Homo sapiens: one gene and its partners. The protein of the gene in region 2 purifies or fractionates together with the protein of the main gene of each other region. This does not show direct contact. Each region holds a gene or a part of one and is shown on either strand. Other genes may lie near its edges.

Region 1 (7,037 bases), on a different chromosome or scaffold from region 2:
TCAGGATTGGTCTGTGTAGGAGTTTACATTTATGGTCTCATCCCTAGTACACTGTGAATTCTTGAAAGCAGACATTTTTCCCCCCCTCTCTGAATCCTCAGCATTCAGCACAATGCCTGGCCCTGACATATTGTGGACTTAATAAATATCTGCTGAATGAATCATGAAAGTCAGGAATAGGATGATTATGAATCTTATCTGTTTTTTATCATTTTAATCTCATTAAAATATGAACAATTTAAAAAGACCTCAGTGCCTCAGTAAAAACACAGGCAGTTTCTTCAGTTCCTTTACACTGGCCTTCCTGCTTTAAGACCTCACACGAATCTCATGGTGTTCAAAACAAAAAAACCCTTGTGGTTAAACTCAAACGTGGGTCAGAACATGATAGGCTAGAACTAGGCCAAATGTTTAAAGAAGCAAATTTAGGATAATAAAGGAAGTACTATGTAAGCAAAGTAAGGGTTGGTACAAGATAAAAAACAAACTAGCTTCCTAACTGGTCTAGGTGAACTCTTTAGTGAGTTACTTAAAGATGCTAATATGCTTTTGAATATTTGACTGTTTAGAGGATGGATAGGTAGGAATTATGGCTCTTCTGTTGTACAAATTCTTTGCCAGTGCTGTCAGAGACAGCATTTAGTGGATCATAAGCCTGACCTAGAGTGATACTTTTTTCTCCACTGCAATAGAGTAGGTATAAATGATAGTAAATCTAAATATGAAGTTTTCAAAATGATAAAATTATGGAGGTTATTTTTGTTTTATAGAAATGTGTTATATAAAATAGCCACAATATAATGTGTTGTATACAATGTGTATTAAACAATGTGTTGTATGAAAATAGCTACCTCGACTTCCTTTAAATAACAGGTACCCATGATGCACTGAAAAATATTTAAAAAATCAACTATATAAGTATTTTATTATAGAAAATGAGGCCTTTGTGTGGGAGATCATGTTTAGTGAATGTGCAGCCATTTTTAACCTCAAAGATTATGTAGTATTCTATAGTATAGTACATAGATTTTATAGTATTTCTACTATATCAATATTATATAGGTTTCTTATTTTATCTATAGGGAAAATGCTCTATTAAAGTATAATCATTGATTTTGAAAAAAAATGTTTTATTGTTTCTTTTCCTTTTCCTGTTTTATTTTTACCACCTTTCAGGTTTTTTTCTTTCCCCTAAGTGAAGATCTGAGGAGAGGACAGGTATTGTTACATGTCAACTGTCAAGTAACTGTGACCCATTACTGAACACTTCATTGTTTTCAGTGATTATGATAGAGGATGTCAGTTTTGTAAAATCTAGAAAACTTTGCTTTATTTTGGCAGCTTGATCCTGTAGTAATGGGGTAGATTCAAAATGTGAAACTTGCTGGATGCATTTAAATTTTATTAATAAAACTTTTATCTAATTGCAGGAGCAAATATAGGCAGACTTTGTCTTCTCTTTAGTATACATTTCTGGAAACCACAATAAGTATATCTTATTTTTAATAAGACAGGTGGCATAATTGGACTGTGTACTCCTGACCAAGGACTTGACATTTGCTAAATTATAGAATGACCAAAAATACAGATCACTTATCTAGAAGTCTGAGTTGCAGAACAATTGTCCTAAAGTTTTTAAAAATTTTTATTACTAAGAAATTCATACCATTGTGATAATTAACAAGATTTGCTCTACAGTTCAATGCTCAGGGACATGTGATCTGCCAGGCTGTGAATGATGGGTAAGGTCACACTTGCCTGGTTGACCCAGTGCAGAATGGGTGCTTTAGACCCAACGGTTCAGATTATAATGAATGACACACTGACATGGTGGTGGTCTCACTGGTAATGCCTGCGTGTGATAGTGCTCAGTTGTTTATGTGCTTTGGTGGATAACACATTTTAAAGCATTGAAATGCAGCTGTGCAAGTACATATATTATACATCCCGTTCCCCAATTCACATAAATAGAAAAAAACAAGTATCTAAATTGTAATACCTAGCATTCAATGTCTTCCTTCCACCCCACTCCCATCAGTGTGTTCTTTTGGAATTAATACAGTGACCTGTATCATTAACCTGGAGATATCAGATCTCAGATATTCTAGTTTATCAGTTAAACACCAAAAAGCATTAAAACAAAGAAAAACTACCCTATTTAATCGTTCAGTAAAAACTACCATATTTAATCATTAAGTTTTGTCATGATTTAGCAAAACAAACGCAAATGTGTGTGTGTCTGTGTGTGTATGTGTTTTATAAAACAGGTTCAGGATAAAATGTATCCATATAGCACATTATGATTATTTTAATACATTTGGCCTATTTATTTTTTGACAGTTTATCAAGTTGTACAATTTAAAAGCCAATATTTATTAATCCCTAATGTACAGAAACATAGGAGGAAGTTGTCTCTTTGGTTAAACAAACTGTTGAAAGATAAACTTTGGCACACCAAAATGTTTACTTTTCAATTGATAAATAATATTTGTACATTTTTATGGGGTCATGTGATATTTTGTTCCATGCATAGAATGTGTAATGATCACATCAGGGTATTTGGGATATCCATTAATCATTTCTGTGTGTTGGGAACATTTCAAATCCTCTCTTTTAACTATTCTGAAATATATAAAACATTGTTATTAACTATAGTCACCCTACTCTACTCTGCTATCCATTGTTAGAACTTATTCCTTCTATCCAATTGTATGTACTGTGCCCATTAACCAACCTTTCTTCACCCCCACCCCCTCTGTAACCCCCACACTCGTCCTATCCTCTAGTAACTCTCATTCTGAGTAGAAACTCCCTACCTATGAGTCCCACGTGTGAGTAAGAACATGCAGTATTTGTCTTTTTGTCATGTGACCTATTTTAAGCAAATACATTAGTTACTAGTAATTAAGTAATTTGGTTTTTGCTCATTCTTAAAACTTAGAAGGGACTTTGTGGGGTTATTTGGATTAATAGCAAAGTGTTAAAGAACATAAGCTCTGGAGCCATAAAGACCTGTGTTTGAGTCCTGGCTCTGCCACTTAATAACTTTGTAACCCTATGCAAGTTATATTTAATATCTCTATACTTCAACATCCTAATTTGTAAAATAGGGATGAAAATAATGTCTACCTCATAGAGTTTTGGTGAGAATTAAATGAAATGATAATATATGTAAAGTACTTGGTTCAGTACATGGTTTAAGTTTTTAATAAACAATAGTTACAATGAATCATCCCTCTTAAAGAACTGTCTCAGTTCTTTGTTTTTCCTCTGGGGTAATTTTTTAGAATCCAGCAAAGCAATTAAAAGTGATTTATTTGATTGATCAGTTTAAATAGTCATGGTAATATCTGAACGTAATTGAAAGGGCAAGGGGAACAGAAATCTCTTTAATCTTACCCTTTTTGCATTGATCCCTTCCTCAGTATTGTCTTTAAAGGGAAAAAACAACATTGTGAAGAATATATGTGGAAGAAGGAAGAAAGGAAAGTTTGTTCACATTTTTAACATTGCTCAAATTGGAAGATGTCTCACAGTCCATGGGATGTCATAGTTTAATTAGCAGCATGTTTTTCCTTAACAATATATAAAATAATAGTGTATCTTACACTTGATTGTATCTTTTAATCAATGAAATATAGTGTATTCTGTATGTCTACCTCTTGAAGATAATGTGTCCCTGAAGAAATGGTTAAAGTCAGTTTATAGCATCAATAGGTAGAATTTTAACTTTCTTTCTAAAACATACCAACACAAAATGTGCACACCTTTTTATATTTTAGGATGAATCCGTTCTGTTAATTTTTAGGGAAGGAAATTAATATGTCACACCTCCTTCCCCATTACTATAAATACATTTGTTTTAGTTATTTCGAAATGCCATAGGGTAACTGGGTTTTCCTGTCTAGAAATGTAATCCTTTAGATTTTGTCTGTAATGTGGTGTTGGTTCTTACAGAACTCTAAATAGTATATATAGTATTTTTCAAGCCGAAAAGTCTCTGGAGATATGATGTTAAAAGGTGTATCCATGCCTCAAGAATCACCCCCCTCCAAAAAATAAGGTAGTGTGGCATAATCAAGTAAGTTGGGGAAATGTGGCATTAAATAAGATTTAACCTGTCTTTACTGTATAATTTAGAACTTTTAAGATGTTGTATACAATGAATCTGCAAAATGGATATGGCCCACGGCATTTGAGACTTGATGTCAGAACCCCTTTTTTGTAAACCATCTATTGAAGTCTCAGTGGACACAAAGTGCTTTGCAGAACACAGTTTTGGAAAGTCTGATAACTACAGTAACGCGATCCAGTATTGCCTGGAAATGAGCTGTTATGTTTAATTGACTATATTGAAGTGTTTTCTTTAACTGTCAAGAGTTTTGTTTCATTTTGAATTGAAATCTTTCTAAATTAAATTGTATAAAAATGTTCCGTCTTAATAGTGAATATAAATTTAATAATAATTTAAATAAAAGTTAAAAATAATTTACACTTTTGATTCACTGTTCTGAAAATTAATGGTCATATTCTACTTAATATCAAGCTAATTGCCCCTACTAAATGGCCTGTACCTTGACTGTTTCTGTAACTTATGTCTAATATTTGTAGTTTAAAAATTCTCTTATATGCCACTTTATGCCACTGTTAATCTGCTTTTCTCTCCCATTTTCCTGTTTAAATTAATTGCTTCTTGTTTTCACTTACTAGAGAATAGATAGCTAGGATTAGTAATATAAAAAAGTTACAGTTTCCAAATAATGTAAAATAGCATCCTCACTCTTTTTCTGGTCTCTGCTCATCATGTACAAATACCTCTGGGGTCAGGGGTATTTGCTGGGCATATTACCAAATAATAAATAGTGATTTTATGTTTTACATACCATAACAGAATGGCTCAATTGCTGACATTACCTGCCCTGCATATTTACCTTCCTCTCTTGAAGATGTCAGCTAGAAAGTAGAACATGAATGAACTAAAAAACAGGCAGCTTTAAATTGAAAGCTAGCCTACTGCCCTGCCTGGAGTCACATCTCCACATTGTGAGTCCTTTTCTGTTGTTCTCATAAAGTAGTGCTAGTTTCCTAAATATTTGTTACTCTACACGTAGGTGTAAATCTAAAAGCACTTTTAGATTTCTTGTCATAGTAGAATTACAACCATAAGTTAAATCGAATTTTCCCATCTTAACTAATATATCCATGGTCTCTTATATAACTTAAAAACTTGTTTTGTCCACCATATAAATTGATTTTTATAATCTTACATATGGTGATAATCTCATCTTCAAATCTGACCTGGTCATTTAGATTTCTGTGAGCTTGTCTCTAATTCTTTGGGCCACAAAGCTTGTCCTAGGAAACTTGGTTCAGTCATTTGATATGTGTTAGAAGCAGATGTCAAATGATAGCCTGAAGCAAAAGATCATTTTGACATTAATAGATTGAAATGCATCTCAAGTGCAGTGGTTTGGGATAAATCTTCACTCCAGAAATCTTGTAAAACCTGTGGCAAAAATCTCAGCTACCTAGAATGTTACTTCATTTCTTCACATTTAGGAACAGAGGCATCTATCTGAAAATAATGTAAAATAATAAAGATTTACTTAAAATCACAAAAAATTTCTGGATCAGCACTGTTTAGTACAGTAGCTGCTATCTATATGTGGCTGTTGAGCACTTGAAATGTGGCTAGTGTGGAAGTGAACTTTTAAATTTTATCTAATAGTCACCAGTGGCTATTGGCTACCATGTTGAACAGTACAATTCCAGATTACAGGATTAGTACAAATTGAATGCATTTTTTACACCAGTGTTTTTTCATTTCTACCTTGTATGATTTGTATCTTGAAATTAATAGGCTAAACCTTTTCTAAAAACAAATATTTAACATGCTTTTTCAAATTATGTTTAATCAGGTTAGTTTTGTCCTTTTCTACCCTGAAGATTCTGATAAACCCTCTAGGGTGGTACATACCCCACAAATCACCATTCTACTCTTCCTACAGCTTTAATAGTTTTACTGTGACATCTCATTCAAGTGATAACACTAAAGCATTGGGGCAAATTTAAATATCAAAAAATGTTGTAATTACAAGTTTCCTCTTGTGCACCGAGCTTACAGACCGAGACATAAACAGTAAGACTAATGTCTCTGGGGAGAAAAATATACAATTATCTTCTATATTATTGGATAAATAAATTACTGTATGGTAATTTGTTTAAATATTGTGTTGCATTCACTGTACTGTGCTAGTTAAAACGGAAAAAGTGGATTGGTGCATTTTGAAATATGAAAGCATTTAAATTTTTTTAGCATATAATTTTAGAGAACAACTTAGCCCTACCCTATTTATGTAAGAAAATTGAGACCTGTTCAGGCAGACCTGCTGCAGGTGATATGTTAACAAAGTCAGAGTTGGCGTGTGCAGCACATTTATTTCACTAAAATTCATTTTGTCATCCACATCATATCAATACAACTCTTTAATTTTATGTAAACTATCTTAAATACAAATTCTGAAAGAGCCACAATGCACAAAAGTTCAAATATTACTTTTTCTCTACTCTCTGCTAATTTTAACTCGTAAGTCTGGAAAATACAGTCCTTAGTTTACAAAAACAACTTCAGAATGTTCCTACCTACAAACCAAGGGTGAGGGGTACGTTAAGATCACTGCTCTTTCTTTCCCAAGTGAAGATGGAAGGAAGCTCACGTCTATTGAGTGCCCCCCTTGACAAGTCACTTTGTGTATATCAACTTGAATGAAGTATACAGAATTATCCTCAACTTACAGATGAGGAAACTGAAGCCTAGAAGGGTTAAATAACGTGCTCATGGTTGCCCAGCTAGTAACTGAAGGAGCCAGAATTCAAACCCAAGTCTCACAGATTGCAAATTCTAATGACTTTTCACTACACAGCCCTGTTTGAGTTGAGAACATCCAGGTGAGTGACTCAGTCTAAATGAAATCTGCTACAGGGGAAAAAGGTTCCAGGTAGTTTACATGGGTAGCTATTGTGGAGATGTAGAGAAT
Region 2 (7,000 bases):
AAAGGCTTGGAAAATATTAAGACTTAATATAGTTTTTATTTCCAAATTAGAAGGTCAGTAGGTTACTTTTGTCATGTAACTGTCTTTGAAAAGACAATTTAACAATATTAAGTCTTTTTAAATTTCGTTTTGTTAAAGATAGTCTCATTCTGTTGCCCAGGGTGGAGTGTAATGGTGCAATCATAGCTCACTCACCTCAGTCTCCTGAGGAGCTAGAACTACGAGTGTACAACCACCATATCTGGCTAATTAAAAAAATTGTTTTGTAGAGATGGGGTCTTACTATGTTGCCCACGTTGGTCTCCAACTCCTGGACTAGTGCCATCCTCCCATCTTGGCCTCCCAAAGTGCTAGGATTACAGGCACGTACCACCGTGCCTGGACCTTTCTATTTGTTAATGTTCATTGTGTTCTTCTATAAACCAAAAGCTTTCTTAAATATTAGGTGCAATATATGTAAAGAAAAAATAATTTAACATAAATAAGGTTTTCTTGCAAAAATAAACAGAAAAGTCAACTATGGGTATCCACTGTTTCTCCTGTTCGATAAAAGCCTAGCAATTCAGGGTTACTTTCCCTTGAAGCTAACCAATTAAATTCTCATCCAGTGAAATGGGGGTTAAGAATATTTCCAGTTTTACATTATGATCTATCTTAATTTTTGTGTATGCAATGAAAAGGGGTCAAGGCTCATTTATTTCCACACAAACAAAAAATTATTTCAGCATAATTTGTTAAAAAATCTTGTTTTTCCCATCAGAATAATTTGGTACCTTCTTGAAAAATCTACTATGTGGTTCTATTTCTGGACTATCTTCTATTTCACTGATCTCTGTTAGCCCATTTGTTTATATACCAAACCATACTGCCTTGATTATTGCAGCATTTTAATGTCTTAAAGTCAGGAAGTTGATAATTCTTTAACCCACATCTAACACCATATACAAAATTAATTCAAAATGAATCACAGGCCTAAAAAATAAAAGCTAAAACTGAAAAGATTCTAGAAGGAAATGTAGGAAAATATCTTTGTAATTTTGGTGGGCAAAGATTCCTTAAATACACAAAAACTATTAATCACAAGAGAAGCAAATAATAAATAGGACTTATAAAAATTAAAATCTTGTACTTTTCAAAAGTAATATTAGGAAAACAAAACAAAACATTAAGAAAATGAAAAGACAAATCAGTCTGAAAGAAAATCTTCCGGCCAGGCACAATGGCTCATGCCTATAATCCCAGTACTTTGGGAAGCTGAGGTGGGAGTACTGCTTGAACCCAGGAGTTCGAGACCAGCCTGGGCAACATATTGAGACCCACCTGTATTTCCTTTTTCTTTTTTTTGAGACAGAGCGTTGCTCTTGCTGCCCAGGCTGGAGCGCAATGGCGCAATCTCCGCTCACTGCAACCTCCACCTCCCAGGTTCAAGCGATTCTCCTGCCTCAGCCTCCAGAGTAGCTGGGATTACAGGTGCCAGCCACCATGCCCGGCTTATTTTTTTTGTATTTAGTAGAGACGGGGTTTCGCCACGTTGGTCAGGCTGGTCTCCAACTCCTGACCTTAGGTGATCCATCCGCCTTGGCCTCCCAAAGTGCTGGGATTACAGGCGTGAGCCACCACGTCCAGCCTATTTTTTCTTTTAAAAAAAAAACAGAAGAAAAAAAATTTTTTTCCAAATATATTTATTTTATAAAATACATGTATCCAGAATAATACCAAGGACTCCTACAACTCAGTAACAAAAAGAATTCAATAAAAAATGGGCTGAAGACCTGATAGACAAAACAGACAACTACCACATTTTAATTTTTTTTTTTTTGTAGAGACAGGGTCTGGCTATGTTGACCAGGCCGGTCTTGAACTCCTGGCCTCAGCTGATTCTCCCACCTGGGCCTCCCAAAGTGCAGGGATTACAGGCGTGAAGCACCTCACCTGGCTCCAAATTTTGGTCAGAATGTAGAGCAACTAGAATTATCAAGTGCTTAGTGGGAGTGCTAAATGGTACAGAAGAAAAATTAGTCTTTTAAATTCATCCAGGAGTAACCTTTTTCTTTTTTTTGAGACAGAGTCTTGCTCTGTCACCCCGGCTGGAATGCAGTGGCATGATCTCGGGTTTGCAACCTCTGCCTACCAGGTTCAAGTGATTCCTATGCCTCAGCTTCCCAAGTAGCTGGGATTACAGGCACACACCAACTCGCCTGGCTAATTTTTGTATTTTTAGTAGACAGGGGGTTTTGTCATGTTGCCCAGTCTGGTTTCAAAATCCTGGCCCCAAGTGATCTGCCTGCCTTGGCCAAAGTGCTGGGATTACAAGTGTTAGCCACTGTGCCTGATCATTTTCTTTCTTTTTTTTTTTTTTTGAGACAGGCTTTCGCTCTGTTGCCTAGTTGGAGTGCAGTGGTACAATCATAGTTCACTGTAGCCTCAATCTCCCAGGTTCAAGCAATACTTACACCTCAGCTTCCAAAGTAGCTGAGACTACAGGCACATGCCATCATGCCTGCGGCTAATTCTAAAAAATTTTTAGTAGAGATTACGTCTCACTATGCTGCCCAGGATGGTCTCAAGCTCCTGAGCTCAAGCAATCCTCCCACCTCAGCCTCCCAAAATGATGGAATTACACAAGTGAGTCACTGCACCCAGCCCAAAGAAAATTTTTAAAACAAGCTTACAACAATCTTAGACTTGAATATTTGAGATGGGACAAACCAATGACAGAATGGCAAAATGGAATTAAATGAGATTCTAAGATAAATCCGGTTCATGTAAGATGTAAGGGTGAAGCTACTATATATTTGATCATTTAAAGCTCATGAAAAAGAATTACCTGTTTATATTCGTTAATACAACTTTGGCAGCAAAATCTCTTCTGCTGACCTCCAATCACCAGGATGTTGTTTCCAGTACTCTTACTAGGCATGTACTCTCCACAGTGTTCACAGCAGTTCATTATTAGACCATTGGCCAATCTGTACTTATTAAAGCAATGGTTACTGCACAGTTTATGTGTTACATTATTTACGCTGACTTCATGGCGAATCTAAAAGAAAAACCAGAATTCATTAACTAAGATATATGAACCAGATTAGCATAGCAAGCAATGAGATAACTAGTTTCTGCAATAGAAGCAAAGAATCCCTAATCATATCTCAGAGGAAGATATACCCAGGGAAAAGATTTTTTTTTTTTTCTGAGATAGAGTCTCACTCTGTCACTCAGGCTGGAGTGCAGTGGCACAATCTCGGCTCACTGCAACCTCTGCCTCCCATGTTCAAGCGATTCTCCTGCCTCAGCCTCCCAAGTAGCTGGGATTACAGGCGCCCGCCACCACGCCCAGCTAATTTTTTTATTTTTAGTAGAGACGGGGTTTCACCACGTTGGCCAGGCTGGTATCGAACTCCTGACCTCAAGTGATCTGCCCGCCTTGGCCTCCCAACATGCTGGGATTACAGGCATGAGCCACCATGCCTAGCTGGGAAAAGATTTTTAAAAAGCATATTTTATTTTTTCCTTTATTTGTAAGATCACTTTGATTTCACAAAAGAGGACAAGATTCATAGGAAAGCAATAAAATCAATAATAACTTCCCTAAAGACATTTAATAACAACAGATAATGAACTTTTTTTTTTTTTTTGAGACAAGTTTTTGCTATGTTGCCCTGGGCTCGAATTCCTGGTCTCAAGCAAGCCCTCTACTCATGCCTCCTGAATAGCCCAGATTACAGGCTTGCAGCACCACACCTGACTTTGGTTTAGAAGATTTTGACATGACCCGCTTAAAGGAAATGGGTCAACAATCTTTTTTTTTCTTTTGATAGTGTCTCTTGCTTTATCACCCTGGCTGGAAAGCAGTGGTACAATCATAGCTCACTCCACCTCAAACTCCTGGACTCCAGTGATTGTCCTGTCTCAGCCTCCTAAGCAGTTGGGATTATATGTATGAGTCACTCATCAACAAGGATCAACAATTTTTAGATGGTATTGTAAGTAAAGTTCACTGCCCTAGAACATTTGTGGAGGGAGCTAAGGGAATCAATATTATCTGTATTCAGGATCGTGTCTGTATAACCAGAAGCAGGGTAGTTCTCACTGTGGTAACTGAGATAAAATCATGTTCTTGATATGCATGACTCAGGGGTAACCAACACCAAATTTAGTTACCAAAGACTTTTATAAAGTGAGGACTGCCTGCATGCATGTTTCTTCTCTTCTAGGAAATGGGAAGATTGCAATATCACTGAATGTTAAGCAAACAGCATACATTCACTCCACTTGTTCCATGTGTTCTTGTACCGGGATCTGCTGCTTTCTAATTTTAACTTTTAGATTCAGGGAATACATGTGCAGGTTTGTTAGATGGGTATGTTGTTTTTTGTTTTTTTTTTTTTCTTTCTTTTTTTGAGACAGAGTCTTGCTCTATCACCCAGGCTGGAGTACAGTGGCGCAATCTCAGCTCACTGCAGCCTCCGCCTCCCTGGTTCAAGCGATTCTCCTGCCTCAGCCTCCCAAGTAGCTTGCGCCACCACACCCAGCTAATTTTTGTATTTTTAGTAGAGATTGGGTTTCACCCTGTTGGCCAGGTTGGTCTCGAACTCCTGACTTCAAGATATCCACCTGCCTCGGCCTCCCAAAGTGCTGGGATTACAGATGTGAGCCACCACGTCCGGCCCCAAGGGGTAGTTTTCCAGCCCTTGACCCCCAACTCTTGAGACTACATTTTTATTTAATGTCATCAGTAATAACAAAATCCACCATAAAACAATTGCCTTGTTTATGAGCACAACAATTCCATAGAAACAGATGTGTACTTTCCATGCTATGCAAATGGAATTTTATTTATAAAATATCCCATAAGATAGTTCTAACATATCCTTATTCTTCCTTTCAGCTTCATGTTATACATCCAGAACACGTGCATTATGTAGATGAAAGAGTACATAATAGCACTTAAAAGTTAAAATTATCACTGTTAGCCTAAACAACAACTTAGGTATAAAAATCCAGACCTCTGCTAATTTACTACAAATTGTACATCTTGACTTATTAAAAACTCCTTTTTTAAGATTCCAGTTGTTTTCACAGGGAGACAAACAAGATGTACTATAAAATTCTTGGAAGGATTTGCTTGATTCTACTGGAAGAATGACATTAGCCTTCTTTGTAGATGCATCTCTGAAACAGAAGGGATAGACACATAATTTAAGAACACTGAATTTTAATACAAGTCAAATATATTAATAATAATTGCCATTTTTCATTTTCTTATGATTTAATACTAGAAATCAAGTATAACTTTTAGATGCAGCAAATCCACTTTTGGCTTTATTGCCAAGAGTTCTTAAATGATACAGAAAGAGAAGAGTCAGAGATAAAAATCTTTCGTAGCACAAGAACCTTGCCACAAGTTTTTAAGATTTTTAGATGCATTCAAAAATGCTGGTAATAGGCTGGGCACAGTAGCTCACACCTGTAATTCCAGCACTTTGGGAGGCTGAAGTGGGCAGATCACTTGAGGTCAGGAGTTCGAGACCAGCCTGGCCAAAATGATGAAACCCTGTCTCTACTAAAAATACAAAAAATTAGCTGGGCGTGGTGGCGCGCACCTGTAATCCCAGCTACTCGGGAGGCTGAGGCAGGAGAATCGCTTGAACCTGGGAGGTGGAAGTTGCAGTGAGTGGAAATCGTGCCACTGCACTCCAGCCTGGGCAACAGAGTGAGACTCCGTCTCAAAAACAAACCAACAAACCAAAATGCTGGTAATAAATTCATAGAACTAAGGTGTTAAGATGGGGGAGCAGGGGAGGCAAATGTAGTAGCAGGGAGAGGGGCAATTGATTTCCAAACCTATGTTCCATTTTTCTGCCGAGAGTAAATACAGCACATACGAGTCCACAGCTTGGATATATTCTAGGAGCTCAAGCTCAATAAACTTGAAGACACTCCTGCAACAATTCTACCCATAAATCTATCCAGCTCTGCAGTTATATTGAGTACTTATTTATACCATTAGTATTCAACTATGTGGAGAAATGTTGAAAGGTACTGCTTACTTTTTACATATTATGCTTCGTGTGTTTTGAGTACGTTTATGAGAGAAGGAAGAAAGGCAGGTGGTAGAGCAAAAGAGGTGAGCTGATCCTTTTCGTTGATAAGCTGTCTGTCCCTTCTGTAAAGGCTTTTTGCAATTTGCACAAGTGATTTTAGCTGGTTTAGTAAGTTGTTGTTGGGCTGTAGGCTGGAAATTCTGCTTACGAAGTAAGGCCACTGGTGATAAAGAATCCACCCCTGGCTGTTTCTGATTACTGGGAAATGAAGCTGACTGGGAGATCCAAGAATCTTAAAAATGAAACAAGAAAAAAATCATGGAACAAATCAAAATGTACATCAGAAAAATAACTTGCATTTTCATTTAAGAGTTTAAGAGACAAGTGGGGCAGGCGTATAAACATGTGGTTAAGGCCAAACACTCTTGATGCACAATCCCAGGGGGACTATCCACTTTGTATCTCAAGTGAATGATACTCCACTGTGCCAACAATAATAATAAAGTAAATGTTGGCGTCTGGAATTGTGTAATGTGGTAGCCATCGGCTCTTAAGTCAGACTCCAGGTTCAAAGATCTCCTGAATGTAATATTATACAAATATACTAATTGATGATACCTAACTCATCAGAGTGCTATGAAGAACACATGACATAAAAGTAATGCCTGGCACACAGGCACACTCAAAAAATATTAGCTACTTTTTTTTTTTTTGAGACAGAATCTCGCTCTTTCTCCCAGACCGGAGTGCAATGGCACAATCTCGGTTCACTGCTACCTCTGCCCCCCAGGTTCAAGCGATTTTCCTGCCTCAGCCTCCCGAGTAGCTGGGATTACCCAGCTAAATTTTTTTTTCTATTTTTAGTAGAGAGGGTGTTTCACTATGTTGGCCAGGCTGGTCACGGACTCCTGGCCTCAAGTAATCCACCTGCCTCAGCCTCCCAAAGTGCTGGCATT
Region 3 (7,037 bases), on a different chromosome or scaffold from region 2:
ATACTTATCATTGTAAGTCAGAATTTTTCTGAAGACTCACAACAAAAGAACACATAGAAATAAAATAGATACTAGGGTTGAGAGGGCAGCCATCTGTAGTCCCAGATTCTTTAAAATAATAGTCACGTTGTCCTGCAATTTCAGCTTACAAAATAGTAAGCTGAAATTTTGGAATTCTTTATTTCATATTTTGAATAGACAATATATTCTTGTGGTTCAAAATTTTTAAAAATTCATGTGGATACAGCAAAGTTTCCCTCCCACCCATGGGCCCCCAGGCACCCTGTTCCCCTCCTCACAGGAAGGCAAGGCAATTAAATGTTTCCTCCTTCCTTCCAGGGTTATTTTATGCACCCACAAGGAAATGGATGCGTCTATCTGCATTCTTCTCTCCATTTTTAAAACAAGGGATGGCGTAGGATGCACCTGCTCGCGTCGGCCTTTTTTACTCCTTGTATCTTGAAGATGGTCCGTGGCGGTGGAGAAAAAGCTCCCACTTTCTTGTTTACTCTGCATCTTGTTCCACTGTGAGAGTGATAAAACAGATTCATGCTAAGAACACATCCCTTTATCATGAAATCATATTTGCGAAAAAATCTTCTACTGAATTCTTTTATAAATTTATAAATGTATTTTAACCTTCTCTAATTGCAAAGACAGGATCCCGGCCCCGATAGACGGGATGCCCACAGGCAGACAGGAGCAGAGGAGTTTGGGTACCTGACAGCCAGCTTCCCTACAAGCAGTGCAGGACCAGCCTCCCAGGACCTGCTTAGGCTGTGGCATGTTAGGGAAAGTCCCCCACCCCTCCTTGAATGATCGTTTTAAAAGTCTCTACTTGAGAATGATGCATTTATGTTGGCAATAGAATTAGTCCTAGTGTCCTAGCTAAAACTTCAGTAGAATTAAATGCAGCAGAAGGAGAGAAATTCTATGTCCAGAAAGGGACCCTAACTCTTCTGCCTGTTTACAACGCAGGCTATTAGGACTCACAGATCATGGGCCACTGATGCAGTCACAGCTGAATGGTGGCCGTGGCAGAGCATCCTTTGAAACTATAATGGGGTGAGAACTGGCACTATGGTGAGTTTTTATAACGGTGACGGGGAGTGGACGAAGGGTGACCAGGGGACAGATTATGAGCAGTGAGTCAAATGCTACCCAAGCGTTTGGTTCTCTAAAGTAAAGAAATAGCCAGGTGTAGTTGCTCATGCCTGTAATCTCAGCACTTTGGGAGGCTGAGGCAGGAGGATCACTTGAAGCCAGGAGTTAGAGACCAGCCTGGGCAACACAGCAAGACCCCATCATCTCTACAAAGAATTTAAAAATTAGCTGAGTAGGGTGGCACACACCTCTGTAGTCCTAGTTATTCTGGAGGCTGAGGCAGGAGGATCACTTGAGCCCAGGGGTTTGATGTTGCAGTGAACTATGCTTGTACCACTGTATTCCAACCTAGGCAACAGAGTGAGACCCTGTCTCCAAAAAAAATTAACGAAATAGAGTTTTATGCAAAGCTCTGCCTAGAGACTTTGACATGATAGAAGTTAAAAGCAAGTCACCCTCATATTCTAGTAGTAAAATGACTGCACGGTCTCCAAATAGAGACTATTTTAAAATTAGGTTGAACTAATGTGAGAATAGTACAAATCATGGTTAGGAAGGTGTTTCCAATCGCTTTTCTTCTGCTCTGAGTGTTGTTTGCAAAATACATGTTGCATGTTGCCAATTTCCCATGAGTGTGGTGCCCTCCTCCCACTGGTCCCGTCCCCACAGCAGGGGCGGCAAGGGCGGGACTTAGGCACCTCCAGAGGGATTAGCCACCAGGGACCAACAGCGACTTCCTGTTTCCAAGGTAGGCTTAAATCCCAACACCCTGTCCTCAGAAACCATATGTCTCCATGGGGTTGAAGCAACTTTATCTGTTATCCTAAGACATCGGATACAGATGCTGGGCGGGGGAGGGGAGCTTGCATATGTCTAAACAGCAAGGCAGGTCTGGCCTGCGCACCATCCCCAGCATCTCTTGGTGAGAGCCATGCGCCTCACCTCATTTTGTGGCTGGTTTGTAATTCCCGGAACAAGGCAGAAGGTGCACAGTGGCTGGAGGCTTGTTGTGGATGGTGCCCACTGCGAGGGTGGGACACAGTCTGTTATTTGGTGGCACTTGCATGAGCTCCCTACACGTGTCTCCACCCAACCTTATAACACCTTAAAATTCATGTCTGAAGTCTTGTACTCCTTTTTTTTTTTTTTTTTTGAGACAGAGTCTCGCTCTGTCACCCAGGCTGGAGTGCAGTGGCATTATCTCAGCTCCCTGCAACCTCTGCCTCCCAGGTTCAAGTGATTCTCATGCCTCAGCCTCCTGAGTAGCTGGGATTACAGGCACACACCACCATGTCTGGCTAATATTTGTATTTTTAGTAGAGACCAGGTTTTGTCATGTTAGCCAAGCTGGCTGGTCTTAAACTCCTGACCTCAAGCCACCTGCCCACCCCGGCCTCCCAAAGTGCTGGGATTACAGGCATGAGCCACCTTGCCCAGCCTGTACTCCTCTTTGTAGATGTAAATCTTACACTAGTTGTCAAAGAAAGGACTTGCCATGAATCTCCAGACAATCTCAGGTTATCTCTTGGTCGGGTGTGAGATTGTAGTGATTGGGCCACCTGGGGCCAGACTTTATCCAAACTCAATGGTCCACCAGCAGATACCACCCGAAAGCCTAAAGTAGACCCCTCACTGCCATGTGCTGTGTTTGTTCCAGATCATTGATAAGAGCAAGAGAGACCCCTCGGAAGAGATTGAGATCCTCCTGCGGTACGGCCAGCACCCGAACATCATCACCCTCAAGGATGTGAGTGGTCCCCGTGCAACAGCATCTCCACTTCCTTCTGTTTCTTCAACTGACACAAAACTCCCATTCACTCAGAGCAAGCTTTCTCACATCTCATGCCTGTCTCAGCTGGTTTCCACCACCCACATATCTCAGTCACTTGGAGCTGACTTGCTGGACTGTGTACTCAAGTCTTTTTGACAGCCACCGCCCCAGTCATGGAGGGAGCAAGTAAAACAGAGGAAGAGAGAGCTTGTGTGAATTACAGTCCACAGGCGGAGTCTCTCATAGAGGCCCATGGGGGTGCAGGGTTTGGGATCCGGGAGCACAGACAGGAGACAATTTTCCTCCTCACGCTCCAACTCCAAACTGATTCTAGCATTATGAACCTAGAGTCACAGGATATTGGGCCTACCTCAGTTTCCCTCATGCATAGTGACTGCTGCGTGCAAACGGTCTTAACATGCAAGCTTGGCATAAGAATAGCCCGAACAGGCCGGGTGCGGTGGCTCACACCTGTAATCCCAGCACTTTGGGAGGCGTAGGCAGGCAGATCACTTGAGGTCTCCTGAAGGCAGATCACTTTGAGACCAGCCTGGTCAACATGGTGAAACCCCATCTCTACTAAAAATACAAAATTAGCCGGGTGTGGTGGCGCACACCTGTAATCCCAGCTACTCCGGAGGCTGAGGCAGGAGAATTGCTTGAACCTGGGAGGTGGAGGTTGCACTGAACCGAGATTACACCATTGCACTCCAGCCTGGGCAACTGAGAGAGACTCCATCTCAAAAAATCGAAACATAAAAAGAATAATCAGAGCATATTGTTTTTATTTAGTTTATGAGATAAAAGCCAGTATGGAGAAAACTATCTTTTTCTATTGCTTCTCTGAAGCAACAGCACGGCTCTGATATGTAACTTCGCCCTGGACTCTGCCTAGCCTCTCTGTGCTCCCAGCGCCTGGCCACTCAGTGCTGTCCATGCGGTAGCAGCACAGACATCATGGGAAACTGGTTAGAAATGCGGAGGGCCAGGCCCCACCTCAGTCTGCAGGACCAGAACATGCATTTTAGCAAGATCCCCAAGATTGGATTGGATGCACGTTACAGTTTGAAAAGCACTGCCTTGAGGCCCTGCTCTTGCAAGGTGGTTTGCCAACATTTGCATTTCTTAACGTCTAAATATCTCCTGGCAGGCCAGGCACTATGGCTCACGCCTGTAATCCCAGCACTTTGGGAGGCTGAGGCAGGCGGATCACTTGAGGCCAGGAGTTTGAGTCCAGCTTGGCCAACATGGTGAAACCCTGTCTCTACTAAAAATACAAAAATTAGCTGGGCATGGTGACGTGCACCTATAATCCCAGCTACTCGGGAGGCTAAGGCAGGAGAATCGCTTGAACCCAGGAGGAGCTGGAGGTTGCAGTGAGCTGAGATGGCGCCACTGCACTTCAGCCTGGGTGACAGAGCGAGACTCCATCTCAAAAAATAATAATAATAAATAAATAACAAATATCTCCTGGCAGAGTCATGAAGCCATTCATCTCAGCTAAGGACACGCCCATCTTGTATGTCCTTACTCAGTCCCTGCTTAGCAGCAGATTATTAAAGCCGTTTTCTTCCTAAAAAGAGCACATATGGTATGACAGGAATGGCCATTTGCTTCTACCCTGCAGAAGCCTTGTTTGCACTCCCATAGGACCCTGTGGTCCCAGCCTCTCCCCTCTGACTTCCCTCTCCTGTCCCCTCTGGAGTAGTTGCTCTTTCACAGCAACCAGCCGTGGTGACGTGTGCGCCCCTTCTCCACTCCGCAGGTCTATGATGATGGCAAGTTTGTGTACCTGGTAATGGAGCTGATGCGTGGTGGGGAGCTCCTGGACCGCATCCTCCGGCAGAGATACTTCTCGGAGCGCGAAGCCAGTGACGTCCTGTGCACCATCACCAAGACCATGGACTACCTCCATTCCCAGGGGGTAGGAGCCATGCCTGGGGCAGCCTTCGGGGAGGAGGGAGCTTCAGGGCAGGAACCAAAACCACAAGGGTTTATGGGTTCAAGAGCTGAGAACGCGGATTGTCCTGGAATTCCTTCCGTGCCACCATCGTCTCTCTTGTGTCTGGAGGCTCAGTGACGGTGCAAGGGAAGAAAAATTCTCTTCCCAGCCGGGTGCAGTGGCTCACACCTGTAATCCCAGCACTTTGAGAGGCCAAGGCGGGCAGATCACGAGGTCAGGAGTTCGCGACCAGCCTAGCCAACATGGTGAAACCCTGTCTCTACTAAAAATAACAACAACAAAAAAAAAATTAGCTGGGCATGATGGCACACACCTGCAATCCTAGCTACTCGGGAGGCTGAGGCAGGAGAATTATTTCAACCCAGGAGGCGGAGGTTGCAGTGAGCTGAGATAGCACCATTGCACTCCAGCCTGCGTGACAGGACGAGACTCCATCTCAAAAAAAAAAAAAGAAAAGAAAAATTCTTTTTTCCCTCTGCCCATCTTAGTTCTTCGGTGGAGGCCCTATAAACAAGACTGGCCAAAGACAGGTTAACAAGAGAAAAACAGAAGTTTATTAACATGTGCATCTCACATACACACGGGAGCACCCAGCCATGAATAACTCCAAGGAGTTGTTAGAACTTGAGCTTATATAGCATTTTAACAAAAGAACAATAATTTTGCTGGATGCAGTGGCTCATACGTGTAATCCCAGCACTTTGGGAGGCTGATGCAGGTGGATCACCTGAGGTCAAGAATTTGAGACCAGCCTGGCCAACATGGCAAAACCCCATCTCTACTGAAAATACAAAAATTAGCCAGGCTTGGTGGCACACACCTGTAATCCCAGCTACTCAGGAGACAGAGGCATGAGAATCGCTTCAACCTGGGAGGCAGAGGTTGCAATGAGCCAAGATCACGCCACTGCACTTCAGCGTGGGCGACAGAGCAAAACTCTGTCTCAAATTTAAAAATTTTTTTTTAATTTTATTATTATTATACTTTAAGTTTTAGGTACATGTGCACAATGTGCAGGTTAGTTACATATGTATACATGTGCCATGCTGGTGTGCTGCACCCATTAACTCGTCATTTAGCATTAGGTATATCTCCTAATGCTATCCCTCCCCCCCTCCCCCCACCCCACAACAGTCCCCAGAGTATGATGTTTCCCTTCCTGTGTCCATGTGTTCTCATTGTTCAATTCCCACGTATGAGTGAGAACATGCAGTGTTTGGTTTTTTGTCCTTGCGACGGTTTACTGAGAATGATGATCTCCAATTTCATCCATGTCCCTACAAAGGACATGAACTCATCATTTTTTATGGCTGCATAGTATTCCATGGTGTACATGTGCCACATTTTCTTAATCCAGTCTATCATTGTTGAACATTTGGGTTGGTTCCAAGTCTTTGCTATTGTGAATAGTGCCACAATAAACATACGTGTGCATGTGTCTTTATAGCAGCATGATTTATAGTCCTTTGGGTATATACCCAGTAATGGGATGGCTGGGTCAAATGGTATTTCTAGTTCTAGATCCCTGAGGAATCGCCACACTGACTTCCACAATGGTTGAACTAGTTTACAGTCCCACCAACAGTGTAAAAGTGTTCCTATTTCTCCACATCCTCTCCAGCACCTGTTGTTTCCTAACTTTTTAATGAAAAGTGGTTTTGATTTGTGGTTTTGATTTGCATTTCTCTGATGGCCAGTGATGGTGAGCATTTTTTCATGTGTTTTTTGGCTGCATAAATGTCTTCTTTTGAGAAGTGTCTGTTCATGTCCTTCGCCCACTTTTTGATGGGGTTGTTTTTTTTTTTCTTGTAAATTTGTTTGAGTTCATTGTAGATTCTGGATATTAGCCCTTTGTCAGATGAGTAGGTTGCGAAAATTTTCTCCCATTTTGTAGGTTGCCTGTTCACTCTGATGGTAGTTTCTTTTGCTGTGCAGAAGCTCTTTAGTTTAATTAGATCCCATTTGTCAATTTTGGCTTTTGTTGCCATTGCTTTTGGTGTTTTAGACATGAAGTCCTTGCCCATGCCTATGTCCTGAATGGTAATGCCTAGGTTTTCTTCTAGGGTTTTTATGGTTTTAGGTCTAACATTTAAGTCTTTAATCCATCTTGAATTAATTTTTGTATAAGGTGTAAGGAAGGGATCCAGTTTCAGCTTTCTACATATGGCTAGCCAGTTTTCCCAGCACCATTTATTAAAT

The links.
Region 1: the proteins of ZMYM5 (region 2) and RPS6KA3 purify together in Homo sapiens (affinity purification with mass spectrometry; 2 studies listed by BioGRID and IntAct, with this or other methods). This does not show direct contact.
Region 3: the proteins of ZMYM5 (region 2) and RPS6KA2 purify together in Homo sapiens (affinity purification with mass spectrometry; 2 studies listed by BioGRID and IntAct, with this or other methods). This does not show direct contact.

Annotation. Positions count from the first base shown.
Region 1 is NC_000023.11:20,256,873-20,263,909, reverse strand, and holds part of RPS6KA3 (ribosomal protein S6 kinase alpha-3), read left to right. Parts: intron 1-7,037. UniProt on the Homo sapiens protein: Serine/threonine-protein kinase that acts downstream of ERK (MAPK1/ERK2 and MAPK3/ERK1) signaling and mediates mitogenic and stress-induced activation of the transcription factors CREB1, ETV1/ER81 and NR4A1/NUR77, regulates translation through RPS6 and EIF4B phosphorylation, and mediates cellular proliferation, survival, and differentiation by modulating mTOR signaling and repressing pro-apoptotic function of BAD and DAPK1.
Region 2 is NC_000013.11:19,832,650-19,839,649, forward strand, and holds part of ZMYM5 (zinc finger MYM-type protein 5), read right to left. Parts: intron 6,337-7,000; coding exon 6,051-6,336; intron 5,173-6,050; coding exon 5,007-5,172; coding exon of another isoform or gene 4,896-5,006; exon of another isoform or gene 4,815-4,895; intron 3,041-4,814; coding exon 2,828-3,040; intron 1-2,827. UniProt on the Homo sapiens protein: Functions as a transcriptional regulator.
Region 3 is NC_000006.12:166,428,215-166,435,251, reverse strand, and holds part of RPS6KA2 (ribosomal protein S6 kinase alpha-2), read left to right. Parts: intron 1-2,761; coding exon 2,762-2,851; intron 2,852-4,640; coding exon 4,641-4,799; intron 4,800-7,037. UniProt on the Homo sapiens protein: Serine/threonine-protein kinase that acts downstream of ERK (MAPK1/ERK2 and MAPK3/ERK1) signaling and mediates mitogenic and stress-induced activation of transcription factors, regulates translation, and mediates cellular proliferation, survival, and differentiation.